2 linked regions of the Homo sapiens genome follow. The protein of the gene in region 1 purifies or fractionates together with the protein of each later gene. This does not show direct contact. Each region holds a gene or a part of one and is shown on either strand. Other genes may lie near its edges.

What was found. Proteins that work in one complex are often made in the same cells at the same time.
Region 2: the proteins of RNF44 (region 1) and BTNL3 purify together in Homo sapiens (affinity purification with mass spectrometry; one large-scale study listed by BioGRID and IntAct). This does not show direct contact.

The regions. Positions count from the first base shown.
Region 1 is NC_000005.10:176,534,603-176,538,848, forward strand, and holds the start of RNF44 (RING finger protein 44), read right to left. Parts: upstream 2,801-4,246; 5' UTR 2,338-2,800; intron 2,047-2,337; exon of another isoform or gene 1,861-2,046; intron 1-1,860.
Region 2 is NC_000005.10:180,991,846-180,995,345, reverse strand, and holds part of BTNL3 (butyrophilin-like protein 3 precursor), read right to left. Parts: intron 2,534-3,500; coding exon 2,186-2,533; intron 1-2,185.

The DNA of each region.
Region 1 (4,246 bases):
GTTTAACAAATTCCCCAGAAGTTGTCACAGCACAGCTAGATTTGGGAATCTCTACCCTAGCTAACCTCAGAAAGCTGGGGAGCCCATAGTTCTGCTGGTGCAGAACAGTCACCATAATAACCATGCTGTTTCCCCGGCGCCAACTTGGTGAGTCCTCCCAGCAACACTGGCAGGTCAGGACACCAAGGCTCAGAGAGGTGAGGTCCAAGGCCAGTCAGCTGGAATCGTGAGTGCGCAGGTGCATGACCTAAGCAGTCTGGCCATAAAGCACCCATGACTAGCCACCAAGCCAGCAGCCTTGACTGCTCCTCTTATGTCAGGATGTCTTGCAGATGGCTGAGTAGTGCCAGGCCCAAGGCACTCCTGCAGAGGCCCAGGCCTGTGGGTGTCTGCTCTGTGGCCAGCCCCCTACAAAGGCACCCACTCCCCAGGGCAGGGAAGGTGGTAAGGAGCTGTGAAAGCAAGCCAGGAGACAGAAGGGCCTCCAGCCGTGGGTAAGAATGTCAGCCCTCACAGACTCACACATGACAGTGACTTCTAGCGAGATTCTTGCCTACAGACCGTGGGCAAGGGCTTCCCCTCCCGAGCCTCAGTATCTTCATCTGTAAAATGGGAACAGCCCAATAACTACCTCCCAGTTTCCCATCAAGGACTGCTCCAAGGCAACAGCAGAAGCAACTTGTAAAGTTTGAACTTAGCTTGGGTGTGAATGATCATTATTAGCGAATACGACACGCTGACCTCCATTTCCAACCTCAAGCAGAGCTTGAAGGGTGCCACTTCCGGGGCAGCAGGCAGATATGCCACTCTAGGGGAATACCTCAGCTGGTAAGAGTGGATCCTGGTTCTTTAAGCCCTGCCAGGAACAGGGGTGGCGTAGAAGGGTTACACCCACTTCATGGCTGAGAAAACTGGAGCCGAGAGAAAGGAAGTAAGTTACTCTAGGCCACAAGACCAGAGAGAACGGAATTGGTCCTAGTTGGCCTCCTAGGCCCAAACTCCCCCAAGCCATAACTCCTGTGGCATCAGTAGCTGGAGGAAATCACCTAATCCCGAGTCTCCAAGCCATACAGGAGGCTGGGAGAGCACTCTCTTTCAGGCACCCATCTTTAGCTCTGTAGTACAGAGAAGCAAGCAAGGCCCAGAGTTGGAGCTAGCAACTTGCTCAAGGTCAAATAGCAAGGGTGGCCAGGTGGCCTCCCCTAACAACTGCTCTGCCCGTCCACATCTCCATGCTGTCCTATCACGGAGCTCTGTGTGAACGGGTCTTGAGAGTCCCGTCGCTGAGCCCCGTCCGCCCCAGGCACGCAATGCATTTTGCAGTTAACATAACCCCCCACACCCACCCATGAGAGCCGGCCAACCCCTTAAGTCCAGTGCCCCAAGCACCTACCCTGACCTTGGTCTAAGAGCCCCAGGGATCTGTTTGCAGGAAGAGACACTCCCTTTTGCAGATAAAAACAAAGTCAGACCCTGGGGGCATGAGCAGACTCAGCCAGGAAGAGAAGCCCCCCTTCCTACTTCCCCACACCCCACCCGAAACAAGCAGGCTCTGCCCAGCGCAAGCAGAGCTTCCCAACGTGTGGTGCCTGGAGGCCGCTGAGGGCCGGACCACCAGACTAGGAGAGAAGACTCCCTAGTGACCTTGGTCAAGGAAATCCCTTTGCTTCTGAGCGCCTCAGTTGGCACAGCTATAAAATGGGGGTGGAAATCTTTCCTTCCCACAGCGCCCAAATAAAACCAGAAGAGTCCAGAAGAAACCAGGTGGTCACACTAGTGGGGGAGGAAACCAGGGTCCTGGGGAAGGGGGGGCTCCCCAACGCGGGCCAAGTGCACGCTGTGGGGCTCTGGGAAGCTTACCCAGCCACCCCTCCCCAGGCATAGTGCTGGGGGGCCGAGGCGCGGACACAGCCCCGAGAGGGGCCTCCCTCGTCCGCTTCCTACTCTTTTGCGCCGCTCTCGGAGGGACACCGGGGGCGGGAGGCGAGACTGCAGCGCAGGGGCCAGAACGCTGCGACTTTAAGAGCCGAGGATCCCGGACCATGTGCTCGGCGTGAGACAAAAGCAACAACAAAGGAAGTGGCGGCCGCAGGGGGAGGGGGGCGGCTCCTTCCTCTCCAACCGCAGCGCTCAGCTGCAGGAGAGGGGAGATACGGCCCGGCCACGGGGGGCCTTGGGGGGGGTTCCTGATCCCTGGGGTCTCGCTGCCCGCAGTCTGGACCGCCCGTGATTAACCCCTACGGAGCCACCTAGATCACGGCCCCCATTCCCAGGGGAGGGGAACAGAAGGTCCATGGGTGGGGGAATAGGAAGTTGGGGGCCCTGGCACCGACTCACCTTTGGCCGCCCGGCCACACGTTGACTCCTTTGTTCCCGATCTAGGACGGCCAAACTGGGCAGGGGGCGGGGGAGGGGGGGGGTGCCTGTCTGGATCCTTTAAGAGCTCCCGCCCTGCGGAACAATGTGCTCCCCTCCCCACCCCCGGGTCCGGGGGCAGCCCGGCTCCTTCCGGGGCCTCTCTCTTTGTTGTCCGCCCGACGGCGTCTGCCTCGCGAGGCCCACGCGCGATCAGTCTCTCTCGGCCCAGGCCCTCAGGGAGCGGGAGGCGGCGCAGGACGCAGCTGGGTCTGCGCGGCAGCCGGCGGCTGGCCCTTTAAGAACTGTCCGCGGCGGCAGCGGAATGTAACAAACCCCACATTTGATTCACAACATTCGAAGCGGCGGGGTCGCGCGCCAGACGGGAGGGGGCTCGCGGGGGCGCGCCGGGAGGCTCCGGCAAACAGTAGCCCGCTGCAAGCCCGCAGGGGCCCCGCCCCGCGCCGGGAGCTCCGCCCTGAGAGCCAATCACTCGCCGCGACCACGCACGTGACTAGTGGGCCACCATCTTGAATTTTTTTAACCTCCTCCTCGCCCCCACCTTCGCACTTAAAGGGACCGCAGCCATAGTCAAAAGCAAGGGGCGGGGCCGCATATCCTGACATAAAGATGGGGAGACCCCAGGGTGGGCAAAACCGATCGGCTGCAACTCGAACTTGCTATGCAAACTCGCTAACTACTCGCGCCTCTGAGGCTCAGTTTCCCTGCCGAAGAAATGGGTCCCGCCAGGAGAACCGGCAGTACGGACTTACTGTGTCATGGTCCCCTCCTCGGGGACAGGGTGCCGCCTGAGATACTGAAGTGCAATGGGTCTGACCTCTGACGGGGCGAGAGCGGCCCAAGTGGTTATGCTGGCTCTAACAACCCTGGGCCGGCCACCTTCCCGGAGATGACGTCACCCCCAAGAGCTGCAGCACCGCGCTGACATCATGGCCCGGCCGCCCCACTTCTCCTTGTTTATACTACACGGCGTCTTTAAAAAGCTGGTACGGCCCAGATTGCCCAACAGACCAATGGCGGACCACCCATGCAAACGAGCTAACGTCTGCCGGGCAAGGAGATTGGCCCTGCTCGCGCTGACGTCACAGAGACATTTAACCGCCACGCCCCCAGCGTGGCGGTGGAGGAAGAGAGGCGGGGAACAGGTTGTAGTTTAAAGCAAAAGTGCAGGCGCTGGGCGCTCTAGCTGCTAGGCTGGGCTTGAGAGTTTGGTGTCCCCGCGGAGACCTCCCTAGCCAGGGAAACTGGGAACTAAGCCCAGTGAAGCGTCTATACTTTAGTTTTCTATTCCTCTCAGCAGCTATGAGACGGAGGGATTACTATAGCCAGTTCATTTTACAGATGGGGAAAGTGAGGGCCTTCCCTTACTCCAGATCACACAACTAGAAGTGTGGCGGAGCAGGAGTGTGAACCTAATCCAAAGCCGAGCCTCGTTCTCCTTTGCCTCGAAGCCCACCCACCCGGGCAAAATTTATACAAAATGGGGTATTACCTCCACCACAATTATATAAGCAGAAAATCAGTAATTTGCTAAATATCCAAGAGCTGGAACAGGTCGAATAATGAATATTGGGTGCATGCATATAATCAATAACGACTCTTGGGCAGTTACCACAAAGAGGCAGCTGGAGGCGACACGGGGCTATCTCCAAGACAGCCATAAACAAGGCGCCAATGCAAAATGTTAACATCTGTTAACCTGTGTGGTGGGCCATGGGGCAGGGGGATGGGGGGCTCATTTTCTATGCTGCTTTGGTATATTTCGTAATCCTAAATTTTATATAAAAATTGAAACCAAGATGCTGAACAGTTCTAACAGTATGTATCAGGTTTCTTTAATTGGACATATGCCACATCTGCATATATTTCT
Region 2 (3,500 bases), 4.5 Mb from region 1:
TTACCCATCATACCAAGAACCAATTAAATATCAACTTGAATGAAAATAGACAATCATGTGATTGCCAAGACCAACATGAATAGCTATTATTAAAATGTTTCAAAAAGCAATTATGAATTCTCTCAAAAAATTTAAAAAACAAAAACCATAGATGTTATAAAAAACAAATCAGAAGTAATATAACAGAAAAAAATGCAAAAACAAAAACTAACTGGGTAGCTTCAATGCTAGAGTGGAGATGACAGAAAATAAAATTATTGGCCTGGCATGGTGGCTCAGGCCTGTAATCCCAGCACTTTGGGAGGCCAAGGCGGGTGGATCATGAGATCAGGAGATCAAGACCATCCTGGTTAACACGGTGAAACCCCGTCTCTACTAAAAATACAAAAAAAATTAGCCGGGCGTGGTGGCAGGTGCCTGTAGTTCCAGCTACTCCGGAGGCTGAGGCAGGAGAATGGCGTGAACCCGGAAGGCAGAGCTTGCAGTGAGCGAGATTGCACCACTGCACTCTATCCAGCCTGGGCGACAGAGCGAGACTCCATCTCATAAAAAAAAAAAAAAAATTATTGAACTCCAGGATACAACAATGAAACTTAACCAGCATGAAAAGAGAGGAAAATATTTTTTTAAAGGGAAAAACAGATCCTCAAGGACCTATGAGACAATAACAAAATATCAACATTTATATCATCATAGTCCCAGAAGGAGAGGAGAAAGAGAGAGAGCTGAAAGAGTATTTAAAGAAATGATGGCTGATCTAATCAAATGAGGTGAAAGTCATGAAACTACAGATTCAAGAAGCTGAGAGCACACCAAATAGGAGAAATGTAAAGAAACCCATGCCTTGATAGATCATAATTAAATTTCTGAAAATAAAGAAAACACCAATGACAGCAGATTTTTCGTGAGAAATCTTCAAGGCCAGAAAGAAGTAGCACATTTTTCAACTGCTGAAAGAAAATAACCATCAAGAAACTCAGAAATTCTATATCTGGCAAAACCATTATTCACAAATAAAGAGGAAATCTTTTGCATATTTATTCTCAGATAAACAAAAACTAAGAGAATTTGTCACTAGCAGACCTATCCTAAAAGGATGGCTGGAGGAAATTCTTCAAACAGAAAGGAAATGATAAAAGAAAGAATCTTGGAATATTAGGAAAGAAGAAAAGCAATAGAAAAAGAAGAATAAGGAAAACTACAATAGATTTTCCATTTTATTAGTGTTTAACAATCACATATGTGCTGGGTGTGGTGGCTCACACCTGTAATCCCAGCATTTTGGGAGCCCAAGGCAGGGGATCATTTGAGGCCAGGAGTTTGAGACCAGCTGGCCAACATGGCAGAACCCCATCTCTACTAAAAATACAAAAAAAAATTAGCTGGGTGTGGTGGCGCATGCCTGTAATCTGAGCTACTCAGGAGGCTGAGGTACAAGAGTCACTTGAATCCAGGAGGTGGAGGTTGCAGTGAGCTGAGATCACACCACTGCACTCCAGCCTGGGTGACGGGACAAGACTGTCTCAAAGAAAAATAAAAAATAAAAAATAAAAATGAAAATTATATATGATGGTTTAAACAGAAATTAAGTCACTATCTGATATAGTGCTTATGTATATAGAAGAAATACTCAAGGCAATGTTATTTTTAAATTGTGGAGTTTGAAGGGCTCTGAATGAAAATGAAGTTTCCACACTTCAAAGTGGTAAAATGTTGATATAGTAGATTGTGATAAATTATATATGAATATCATAACACCTAAAGCAGCACCTAAGAAAACACTACAAAATGTTATACTAAAAAAAGACTAACAATAAGTTGTGATGGAATCCTAAAAAAAGTTTAGTAACACACAAGAAGTCAAGAAAAAAGAAGAAAATAAAAGAAATTGAAATATGACAGGCATTATCACTCTCATTTCACCAACATTGGGAGTGGCTTTCCTCTGTATCCTGTCAGGTGGTGGCAGGTGCAGGTGGCTGTCTTCTGCATCATGATCCCACCTGTGTGATGGCAGGGCCAGGCTCATCTCCAGAAACCTCAGGTCAGTGATCCCCACCGAAGCCTTTTTACATCATGTCAGAATCTGGAAAGTCTGTTTTATTTCATTATCTGAAATACTTTTAAGAGCTGATAATGGTAGCATGACTTTACAAGACAACTCAGTCATAAATAAACAACTGACCTGCCACCCGCAGCTCCCAGGTGGCCTCCTCATCGTAAATCTGGGAACTGAACCAGCACCCATACAGGCCGATGTCCGAGGGAGTGATGTTTTTTAGCCTTAGAGAGACACGCCCCCCTGCAATGGAGTCCTTCACAAACTCAGTTCTCCCTCGATACTGTGGCATCTGCTTAGATTCCCAGTCTTCCCCATCTCTGTAGAGGTGGACCACAGCATGGAACTGATTCCTGAAGAACCGCACTTCCATAGCCTCTGCACTGGTCTCAGGAAAGAGGGAGCAGGAGAACACGGCGTCCTCCCCCACCAAGGCCTGGACAAACTTGCCCGGTCCAGTGACTTGCCACTGTCCTATAGGAGGAAACATAACAGACAACTGAGCAAAATCCACTTGAGTCCTTCTCAGGGCTCTGGTGGGTGGAGAAGTGTGGGGTATGGGGTGGGGGATCCATCAGTCTTCTTTCTAAACCTGATGACTTGCATTTGCACATCTTACACTTGCGAGAATGCTTCCATGTCAGTTACTTCACTCGGTTCTCACACACATCTCATGTGAGATGAGGTGAGGTATGTGCTATCAATATTCCCACATTCAACATGAGGAAACCCTGTCTCTGGGGATGAGTTATTCAGGGGCCTGAGAGGCACCTTCCAAATGCAGACTCCCTGACTGGAGGAGAATCTATCTCCACGTGCTCTCCTCTCTGCCCATCTGCTTAATGAACACTCACACCACCCCCTTTGCATCTTCTATGCTAAAAACCTTTTTTAATGACCCAGGAGGGGAGTAAGTGGCCATAAAATATCGAATTTGGGAAAATTTATTTCCTTCAAATAGATGATTACATCTTGTAAATGTTTTATGGATACAAGAAAGGAATATATATTCTCCGCTGAAGCACATTTATTTGTGCTTCTTTTTTTTAAGTAGACTTCTGCCATATTCTGAAGGACATGGTGTGACACAGTGAGGAGATTTTGTAGTTTTTATTTCAGAGATTTGCCCTTTAGTGCACTGATGTTGTGACATATCTTTTCCATGACACCTACATTTTACTCCAGGTAATAATTTTATGTTTTTCCACTTTATTATTTCGTGCTTGAATAGTACTTCGTCTAGCAAAAGTTTGTCCAAGCCACAGCCTGTGGGCTGCATGAGACTCAGGACGGCTTTGAATACGGTCCAACACAAATTCTTAAACTTTCTTAAAACATTATAAGATTTTTTGTGATTTTTTTTCATTCATTAGTTATCGTTAGTGTTAGTTCTTCTTTCAATATGGCCCAGGGAAGGCAAAAGATTGGACACCCCCACTCT